Linked DNA regions of Homo sapiens: regions 2, 3 and 4 are each linked to region 1. The links come from fine-mapping of genetic effects on gene expression. A gene starts in region 1. Each other region holds a variant in brackets. All regions are shown on one strand. Distances are from middle to middle. Region 1 holds the start of PPIL3 (peptidylprolyl isomerase like 3). Region 2 overlaps HYCC2 (hyccin PI4KA lipid kinase complex subunit 2). Region 3 overlaps HYCC2 (hyccin PI4KA lipid kinase complex subunit 2). Region 4 overlaps CASP8 (caspase 8).

Evidence for each region. PIP is the estimated chance that this variant, and not a neighbour inherited with it, causes the effect. A credible set is the group of variants that fine-mapping cannot tell apart.
Region 2: its variant is the best candidate, but not a certain one, in a credible set for the expression of PPIL3 in fibroblasts (GTEx, PIP 0.69).
Region 3: its variant is the best candidate, but not a certain one, in a credible set for the expression of PPIL3 in uterus (GTEx, PIP 0.51).
Region 4: its variant is the best candidate, but not a certain one, in a credible set for the expression of PPIL3 in stomach (GTEx, PIP 0.66).

The regions. Positions count from the first base shown.
Region 1 is chr2:200,887,867-200,890,366 of GRCh38, reverse strand. PPIL3 (peptidylprolyl isomerase like 3) reads left to right here and starts at 1,290. Exons shown (of 7, transcript NM_130906.3): 1 at 1,290-1,411. It overlaps NIF3L1 (NGG1 interacting factor 3 like 1), which reads right to left and starts at 996. Exons shown (of 7, transcript NM_001369441.2): 1 at 715-996. RefSeq lists enhancers at 213-462, 721-1,465, 1,353-1,602, 455-1,654, 1,723-1,772 and 1 more.
Region 2 is chr2:200,997,416-200,999,915 of GRCh38, reverse strand. HYCC2 (hyccin PI4KA lipid kinase complex subunit 2) reads left to right here. Exons shown (of 13, transcript NM_001321623.1): 8 at 2,376-2,471. The region is part of intron 1 of LOC105373835 (a long non-coding RNA gene); the gene reads right to left. Among named protein-coding and RNA genes, the nearest start is that of ORC2, 35 kb to the right of the region's middle. The variant G/A (reference allele first, on the strand shown) is at 1,339.
Region 3 is chr2:201,057,467-201,060,230 of GRCh38, reverse strand. All of the region lies in intron 1 of HYCC2 (hyccin PI4KA lipid kinase complex subunit 2), which reads left to right. Among named protein-coding and RNA genes, the nearest start is that of HYCC2, 13 kb to the left of the region's middle. The variant G/A (reference allele first, on the strand shown) is at 1,319.
Region 4 is chr2:201,261,649-201,264,412 of GRCh38, reverse strand. All of the region lies in intron 1 of CASP8 (caspase 8), which reads right to left. Among named protein-coding and RNA genes, the nearest start is that of CASP8, 2.5 kb to the right of the region's middle. The variant C/T (reference allele first, on the strand shown) is at 1,314.

The DNA of each region.
Region 1 (2,500 bases):
TTTCTTTTTGACACAGGGTTTCACTAGGCGCCTAGGCTGGAGTGCAGTGGCGTGATCTCAGCTCACTGCAGCCTCGACTTCCTGAGCTCAAGCAGATCCTCCCACCTCAGCCTCCTGAGCAGCTGGGACTACAGGCGCTAAACACCACACCTGGCTAATTTTTGTATTTTTAGTAGAGATGGGGATTCGCCATGTTGCCCAGGCTGGTCTCAAACTCCTGCGCTCAAGTGATCCACCTGCCTCGGCCTCCAAGAGTACCGGGATTACAGGGGTGAGCCACTGCGTCCGGCCTTGAAAGATCTTCTAATGGTCCTCATAGTACTCCATTCTCCAGCATTTTCTACATCTGGCAAGCTCGAAAGTGAAACCCTAGTGGGCCATCATGCAGGTTTTGAGTTATTTACTGTTACAGATGAGGAAACTGCGAAGCTACATGGCCACAGTCAACAACGACAACAGAAGGCAACATAGTATGGCGGTTAAGAGCACCGACTCTGAAGCCAGCCTGAATCCTAGAGCCAGAGCTGTGCAACAGCAGGTAAATGACTTATCCTGTGCAGTTTCCTCCTTAATGGAAATAGTGCCCAGGCCACAATATCGCGAGATTTACACGTAAAGCTGGAAACAACTCCCGTCCTAGAGTAAGCACTGTTTACTATTAAGCAGCATCAGTAGGGCCCCTTTGCAACCTGCAAACCGCTCCCTCGACGTTACCTCATCTATGCCTCATTTCAGTGCCACTTCAGGCCTTTTCCAGGACAGTGAAAAACCACGAGACACAGCCAGTTAAGTCTGAGTCAGGACCCCTGTCCCACTAGTGCGCTGTGCTCTGGTGCGGCAGGGCAGTTTTCTGACCCAATCTCCTCTTCTGCTGTCCTCTGCAGCACCAAGATAACAATCACAGCCGGCCCCAACCGGCACCTACCGCGAAGGTCACAACTACACTCGCGGGTTTTTAAATCGCCCACTACTCACCAGTCCCGGAAACTTCTCTGCGTCACTTCCGGTCCCGCGTCGGCGCTCCGGATGCTGTGGCACTTGGCTCCCCGTAGCGGGAGAGCTGGGCGGAAGTGGTCCTTTCCGTTTGGCAGCCGAGTGTAAAGCATTGCTTGAGGTTGCCCAGGTAGTTTCGCCTTACACTTCTTGTCCCAGTGCAATTATTAGTAGAGCTCCCTTTCACTGTCAAATTTCCGGTTGGGGATAAATTGCATTGTCGTTTTGGTTTGAGATAGGAAGATGAGGGGAGGAAGGAGGTGAGGCGGTAAGGGGCGTTCTCTCTCTTGGGTCCCGCGCCCAACTTCCGCTGGCCCAAAGAAACTATAATTTTGAACCAACAGACCTCTGCTGGCATCTGCGATTGCATTTTTCCTGTTTTAACAACGGCTGTGCTAGACGAAGTGGTGAAGCCCAAGTATGGAGTAACGTCATTAATTCTTTCATTCACTTATTCGAATGCTTGCTGAGTTCTGTGTTGCTACTGGTTTAGTTCTTGGGATACTGCGAGTGAACAGTGGGCGGCGAGGCTGTTGTTGCAACGTCAGAGTAAAAGAAGGACCCTGCACGGCGGCCTCCCAGCACTTCGGGAGGCCGAGGCGGGCGGATCACCTGAAGTCAGGAGTTCGAGACCAGCCTGGCCAACACGGCGAAACCCCGTCTCTACTAAAAATACAAAAATTAGTCGTGCATGGTAGCGCGCGCCTGTAGTCCCACCTACTCGGGAGGCTGAGACACGACAATCACTTGAACCCGGGAGGCGGAGGCGGAGGTTGCAGTGAGCCGAGATCCTGCCGCACTGCACTCCAGCCTGGCGACATAGCGAGACTCCGTCTCAAAATGAAAAAAAAAGAGAAGTTCATAGTATATTAGTGATAAGTGCTGTGGTGGAAAAAAAAAAGTTCATAGTATATTAGTATAAGTGCTGTGGTGAAAAAAAAAAAAAGCGAATTTCATAGTATATTAGTGATAAGTGCTGTGGGAGAAGGAAATAGGAATGTCCTAGGGCTGAAGGGCTAAAGCAGTTCTGTGTAGGATTGTCAGGTCAGTTAAACTTGACATTTAAGCAGAAATTTGGAGGTGAGGAAATTAGCCGTAGAGATGTCTGAGTATAAGAATTCCAGGCAAAAGGGACACCCAATGCCTGGACCCTAAGGGAAGGTATCTGGGTTATTGGGGGACTTGCAAGGAGGCTCTTGAAGAAGAGCAAGCCGGGCAAGTAGGAGATTGGGAGGCTTGAATCGGGTAGGATATCTTCTATAGCCGGGTTTTTATTACCTAGGGGATGCCATTAGAGGATTTTTTTTTTTTTTTTTTTTGACGGAGTCTCGCGCTGTCACCCAGGCTGGAGTGCAGTGGCGCGATCTCAGCTCACTGCAGCCTCCGCCTCCTGGGTTCAAGTGATTCTCCTGCCGCAGCCTGCTGAGTAGCTAGGACTACAGGCGCCTGCCACCACACCCGGCTAATTTTTGTGTTTTTAGTAGAGACGGGGTTTCGCCATGTTGGC
Region 2 (2,500 bases), 110 kb before region 1:
CAGCTAATTTTTGTATTTTTAGTAGAGATGGGGTTTCACTATGTTGGCCAGGCTGGTCTCGAACTCCTGACTGTATGATCCGCCTCGGCCTCCCAATGTGCTGGGATTACAGATGTGAGCCACTGCGCCCAGCCCTTCTATTTCTTTATAGTCTCTTTTTCATCCTAGTAGAGTTCCTTAGATGTCTGGCAACCTTTTTTCCCTCATGTTTAAGAATAGGGGAATAGGCTGGGTGCGGTGGCTCACGCCTGTAATCCCAGCACTTTGGGAGGCCGAGGCAGGCAGATCACCTGAGGTCAGGAGTTCGAGACCAGCCTGGCCAAAATAGTGAAACCCTGTCGCTACTAAAAATACAAAAAAAAATTAGCCAAGTGTAGTGGTGGGCACCTGTAATCCCAGCTACTTGGGAGGCTGAGGCAAGAGAATGGCTTGAACCTGGGAGGCGGAGGTTGCAGTGAGCCGAGATCATGCCATTATACTTCAGCCTGGGTGACAAGACCGAGACTCTGTCTCAAAAAAAAAAAAGTGGGGAGAGGGAATAAAAAATGAGAAGCTCTGACCATGTTAATATATGGCTGATTTGAGCTAGTATTGGTGCAAAAGTTATTGTGGTTTTGCCATTTAAAAAATTTTTTTTAAAGTTTTGCACCAACTTAGTAACTGACTATAAACTTCACCATAGGATCCCACTAGGCCATTCATTTGGAAAATTTCCCAAGTCCATATCTTTAAGTCTTTCTTCTTAGAGTGGTCAAATTCCCTAGAAACAACTCTTCTGGTATCTTAACTAGAGATCTTTTTGCTAGTATTTTGGTGGCAAACTGGCAATATCTAGGCAGGTATATTTCACTTCACTTAATCTTCCTATTTTCAGTTTGGCATCCACCCCCATCACAGCTAGGGCTCCCAGGTAGAAATTAGTTTTTATCCTTTCAGAGAATAAATCTCCATTCTTTTACCTAGATATATGGAGAAAGTGAAGGGATCTGAAAGTATGGCTGCTTCCAGATCAGACTTTCAGCTTGATTTTTAACTTTTCATTTTGAAATAACTTCAGACTTACAAAAAACATTGCTAAAATAGTACAAAGAGTTTCCATAAACCCTTCACCATTCATCTATGGGAAGCTTTTTAGAGGTACAACTTCCCTAGTTCCTACCCGAGGATTTAAGTGGGTCAACTGGGTTAAGACATAGAAGTGTATGTTTTTAAAAAGGTCTCTAAATAACTAATGTGCATCCAGATTTAGGAGCCACTTTCTTAGACATTATAAATGTTAGGAAAGCATTTATTTATTCATTCAACAAGTATTTATTAAACAATTATGTATTAGACACC[G/A]TGCTGGACACCAATGATAGAGATTAATAAATCAGGATCTCTGTTCTAAAGTTGCTTTATTACTAAACGGGTGAAAGAGACATAGAGGCGTAAAATTACAATTCAGTGGGATAAATGCTATGTTAGAGCTACAGAGGTAAGGGACTGGTTTACTTTAGCAGAGAGAATTAAGAAGGGCTTTATGGCTAAGGTAAAAATTTGATCTAGGACTTGAAATCTTATCAGGAATCACCCAAGTAAAAAAGCATATTCTATTAAGAAGGAGCAGCAAGCATTAAAGCAAGGGATTCTGAATGGTTACAGCATATTGTTGGAATGGTAAGAAGATTGATAAAGTGTGGTATATGTGGTTGGTAATGGAGAGAAATAAGGCTGGAGAGGAAGGATGAGGGTGGATTTTAAAGTACCTTGTAAGAAGGACTTTGATTTTAAAGGACCTTGTGATAAGTTTGGATTTTATTATGAAGTCAGTAGGAAGATGGTAGACTTATTCATAGGGGAGTCATCTGTTCAAGCATGATTGATTGATTGATTGATTTTTTGAGATGGAGTCTCACTCTGTTGCCCGGGCTGGAGTGCAGTGGCACAGTCTCGGCTCACTGCAACCTCCGCCTCCCGGGTTCAAGCAATTCTCCTGCCTCAGCCTTCTGAGTAGCTGGGACTACAGGCATGTGCCACCACACCTGCCTAATTTTTGTATTTTTAATAGAGACGGGGTTTCACCGTGTTAGCCAGGATGGTCTCGATCTTCTGACCTTGTGATCCACCCACTTCGGCCTCCCAAAGTGCTGGGATTACAGGCATGAGCCCCTGCACCTGGCCTGATTTATTTTTTAAAAACGGAAATATAGATGACAAGATGACAGCAAGGGTTATGATTTGTAATAAGGAGAATATAAACAGGGAAACCTTTGAGGAAGATGCTATATTGATTTGATTAAGAAATCATAAAGGTCAATATTAAGGCATTGTCATAACCAGTTGCTAGTAGAAGTAATTATTTGTAATCCTTTTAACCTTGCATTTGTTGTTTTTAGGTTTGAAGTCCTGAGTTTTCTCATGCTGTGTTATAATTCTGCTATTGTATATATGCCTGCCTCATCTTACCAATCTCTTTGTCGGATGGGTTCCAGGTGAGAAGAGTGATTATTACTAATCTTCA
Region 3 (2,764 bases), 170 kb before region 1:
ATACTGTATCTGCTGCTGACCGCCTAGTAGTGCTGTTAAGCTCTTCATTCAATAGACATGAATTAAGTGCTAACTATGTACTAGGTCCTGTTAAGAACCGGAAATGCAAATGCAAGTGAGGCATACTCCCTGCCCCAGAAAAGTTGTGGTTTAGTAAGAAGAACCCCCCCCCCCCCGCTTTTTTTTTAGACAGAGTTTTGCTGTTGTTGCCTAGGCTGGAGAGCAGTGGCGCAATCTCGGCTCACTGCAACCTCCGCCTCCCGGGTTCAAGTGATTCTCCACCTCAGCCTCCCAAGTAGCTGGGATTACAGGCATGTGCCACTACGCTGGCTAATTTTTGTATTTTTAGTAGAGACGGGGTTTCACCATGTTGGCCAGGCTGGTCTTCAACTTTTGACCTCAGGTGATCCACCCGCCTCGGCCTCCCAAAGTGCGAGGATTACAGGCATGAGCCACTGCACCCAGTCAATAAGAGGGCTCTTCAACCTGCACACAGGTCTTTGACAACATAAGATGTTGAGTACTATGGGCTGTTGTGACTATGATTCTGCCCACCCCATCAATTTATGAGGCTTAAGAGGGAGAAGGGGAGAGGCCTTCTTTGGAAGGGGAGTATTAATGGAAAGAAACTATTCCCTGCTCTGTGAGGGGAAAGGAAAGGGTTTTTTCCTTCCCAAAAGTCAAGATAAGGAGGTCCTGAAAGAGTCACTCTCTGTCATTAAGAAGAGAGATTTACATTTGCTCTTTGGTTGGGTATCTGCCTAGCCACCAATCTCACTTATATGCCCCTGTTCTACTGAAGAAGACATGGTAATGGAATGCCTGATACCAGGGCCAGGCATTCCCATCTATAACTTGGATTCCTGTTCTGAGAGGTATAAGAGATGGATTCTGCATATATCCTTAGGTCATTCTGAACAAGTCAGGAACTATATTCATCAGGGTTTTCCAGAGAAACAGAACCAATAAGGTTGTGTGTGATTTATTATAAGGTTTATTATAGGAATTGGCTTACACAATTTAGGAGGCTGACAAGTCCCGAGATCTGCAGGGTAGTTGGCAAGCTGGAGACTCAGGAGACCTGACTGTATAGTTCCAGTCAGACACAGTCCAAAGTCCTGAGAACCAGAGATAACATAGTAGCAGTCACTCAGGCTTGAGACTCTGAAGAGCTAATGTTTCAGTTTGAGTTTGAAGGCTGGAGAAAGCCAATGTCCTTAGGCAGGAGGAACTGACTCTCTACTTGGGGGAGGCTTAGCCTTTTTGTCTGTTCAGGCTTTCCACTGATTAAATGACATCCACCACATTAGGAAAGGCA[G/A]TCTGCTTTACTCAGTCTATAGATTTAAATGTTAATCTCATATGGAAACACCCAGAAAAATGTTTAGCTAAATATATGGAGATGAGATTGGAAACATTTTTATCCAGGGTAGAATGGAAGCTCTCTGACCAGAGAAAAGTGTCATGACATAGTGATAAGAAACAAATGTAATTCGATATGAAAATTTCTGTGATTTCTTTTTTTTTCTTGAGATGGGGTCTGGCCCTGTTTCCCAGGCTGGAGGCCAATGGTGCAATCTTGGATTACTGCAACCTCCACCTCCCAGGTTCAGGTGATTCTCATGCTTCACCTTCCTGGGTAGCTGGGACTACAGGCATGCGCCACGATGCCTGGCTAATTTTGTATTTTTAGTAGAGACGGGGTTTCACCATGTTGGCCAGGCTGGTCTCCTGACCTCAAGCGATCCACCCGCCTTGGCTTCCCAAAGTGCTGGGATTACAGGCGTGAGCCGCTGTGCTGGGCCTAATACCTGTGATTTCTATTGGTGACCAAATCACAAAAATATTATGGCTGGTTGTTTTATTGTTTTGCCTATACTCACAATCTAATGACATTATAAATGTTAGTTAGAGATTGGTAAAAAGTGATACAATTTTCTTCTTATCAAAGTTTATGAGTTTTATTATAGATCCCTGGGGGTCTGTGGACGCTATGTTGAGAACTTCTGTGTGAAGAGGAAGGAGAGGGCTTTGAATTGATGCAGGGTTGTATGCTATGGAAAAGATTCATAGAGGAGGCAACTGTTGGTCTGAGTGTTGGAAGAAGGGGAGGGTAGTTAGGATAGAGGGTAGTTGAAAGGCATTCCAGAGAGGAATGTAGCATAAGAAAATGTGTGAGGTGTGAGACAGCCTGGCATATTGTGAAATTGTAGATCAGCATTGGTGAGGGGAAGTCTGTGTTGAGCCAGGGTATAATTTCTATTCTTGCTGACAAGACCATTTTGTTCACGTGCCTGTTGAGCAAATACTGGTTACAAAGGCCATTTAGCCAAACCGATAGATCCATATCTTTGGTCTCTTCAGGTATAGTGAACAACGAGATACTGTTTGAAGTTTTGCCTACTGGGAGTTCCCTTTCTCCTGTCCTGTAGGGCTACTTCTCTGTAAGGTCAATGCCAGCAGACTGTATGCAACCATGTATAAACCAGGCCTAAGTTTTTTTTTTTCCTTCTTTCCTTTGATCTTAGGGAACTCTACAAGGCCATAGATTAAGGAAGAGTTGATTAGTAGAAGTAAGTGCCATGGGTGTCTCAGCCATTTGTTCTTCTAGCTTATTTGTGCTTTTGGAGCCTGCTCTAACCTCATTACAACCATTGTAGTCAGGATTACTTGGTTATGTAGTGGTAACAACCAACCTTCAAATAAAGGCTTAAAATTTGAAAAAGAGAGATTTGTTTCCTCTCATGTAAAATCTGGTGCAAGCTGG
Region 4 (2,764 bases), 370 kb before region 1:
AAAAAAAAAGCAAAACCAAAACCAAAACAAAACAAAAAAACAGGTGGGTAATTTAGCCATCTCTGTCAAAATATAAAATTCACATAAACTGGCCCACAATTTAACTTCCAAGAGTTTTTCCTACATTCACTTAAACAAGTATACTCAAAACCATATATAAGGCTATTCATGGTAGCATTCCTTGAAATAACGAAAGAGCAGAAACAACTGTTTATCAGCATTAGAAGATTTAGGCAAGCTATTAATCATATTCCAGGGAACTCTATTTGGCTACTAGAAAGAATAGGAAGATCAATGTGGTTGAGCCTGCGTGATCTACATAATGTATTGATCAGTACATATTTTGTGTATTCACAGAAGAGCTCTGACAAAAAATGCACAGGAAGTTCCTTCAGTAATGTTAAAGAAAAGCAGAATTACACACAGATGTGGGCGTGCAGTGTGAGAAGGCTGATGGGTGGAGGTGACAGTGAGAGCTGCTTTATTTCCCATACCTTGCTGCACAGTTTGTACTGTTTGAATTTTTACCATGTACATGTATGACTTATTCTAAAACATATACCTAGTTAAAATCTTTATTTAAAGATCCATTCTTATTCACATGCTGGAAAAGATCTAAACTAGATCTAACCCTGTTTAGTGCCATTAGGTCAACTGTCTTTACAATTTTTAATGCATTCTAACCTCTGTTAAAGTCTCATCTTACAGAATAAAACCAACCAAAGAATCAAATGAAAGCAGGACTTCCTTTCCCCCATCCCTCAATTATTTTTTTCTGAGGATAACAATGCTTAGTGTATTCATTTTAGACAATACAGAAAAGATAAAAAGGAAAATTAAAATTATGTATAATTCCACCATCCAAATATAAATGCCCAGTAATATTTTACTCTTTCCTACCAAATATTTTATGCATACACATTTTTCCTTATATTTGAACACATCATATTTCTGTAGTATAAGTGGATTTTTCCACTGGTAAGTACATCTTGTATTGTAAGTACTTTCCTGTCTTTAGTTTTTCTTCTACAGCATGGGTTTTAATATCTGTAAGGCACTTAATCTTAGAGATGGGCTATAATTTACATAGCCAGTTCCTGATTACATTTAGGATGACTTTAAAACGCAAATCTTTAAGAATACCTCTAATTATTTTCTTAGAATAATTTCCTAAAAGTAGTATTATGGTGTCAAAATGAATAAACCTTTTTGAGGCTCTTGTTACACATTCAATAGCATTTTCTGACAGTATATAATAAAAATCAATACAATCCAAGGCTGAGATGACATGAATTTGGATATAATAAGATTGG[C/T]GCATAGCTCCGTCCTCCATAGCCATCTCATCTCACTCATTTCATTACCTTTTCAACAACGTGACAATGCTTTTTAAGTGGTTTCCCCATCAAATCATAACTGACATTTAGAAGGGAAAATGCTAACGTGGCTTCTTCTCTGGCCTAGGTGTTCCAGGATACACTGTCAGATGATAGTCAGCCTTTTCTGTTTTTTGTTTTTTGCTTAAGTTACACATCCCTCTAGTCATAGTACCTAGAAAACAGTCACTTGCAAAGGATTTATGACACCATTAACAACGGGCCATCCAGCACTGTAAGGGGAGAGACATCGTGTGGCAGTTCTTGTTTTATGGGACCTAGATTTTCTGCACTAGCTTATGGGCTAGAAACTTTGTTAAGCTAGTATTTTTTAAACAATGTACTTGTATTTTTGGTTCCTAAAAACAGTAAAAGTAACACTTGTTTCATAGAGAAAGTACAGAGAAGTATAAAAAGAAAATAAAAATTACTTAAAAACTTGCCATTTGGAAGTAATTCTTTGGTCACATTTTGTGGCCTTTTCCCAATTTTTTTTCCACATGTATATATAACATATGTAAATTTGAATATGTTGCCATGTAATACATATATTTTATATAATCTCTGCTAAATAGTAAATGTATATAAGTCTATTTGTATTACATAAGTATATTTATTATTTTATATATTTATGCCCCAAAGTATTTAAATATAAATATGTGTTTATAATAATCATATAAATAAATGATATATAAATGTTTGTAATCTATATATCCATATAAACATAAAAATATTTTTTAACCTCATTTCACTAAAAGCCTCTGAAGAAACTACTATTACTGTCCCCATTTTTCTGTTGTGAAAAATCACGGCTTGGAAATAAGCTAGTAAGAGAGAGAGCCACAGCCAGATTTAAGTGTCTCACTCAAGGGCTTCAGTGACAGATCACAAAGATTTAGACGTCATTCTACTTGCAGCTGGAAGGCAGTGAAAGAATCTCATGAAGAAAAACATAAAATCATAACTTTTTTAGAGAACAACATTTCAAAAAATTTTATAATAACAAAGCCACAAAAACAGAAGTTCTTAACAAATCCACTATAGGAGAGGGGGTTAGAGCCTCACAAAGGAAGTGCTAGAATCTAGGCCCCAGCATCTCATTCCAGAGTCCCATTCTACCACTGTATTACATGTCACAATTAAACTGTAAATACATTCCATCTCATCACAATCATTCCAGTAATATTCTAGCAGCATCCTAGCTCTTGCAGTGATAACTAAAAAGCAAAACATGCATTTGCCATCGGAAGCAGAAACCTGCATCTCATCCGAAGCTTGAGAGAACCTGAAAGCCACTCGCTCTCAGGCCCAAACCCCTAACCGGCAGGTAGTATTGCCACTCCCTCCAATCCAGGCTGGCTGCCTCAGACTGCGGGCTGCCCCGGAACCTG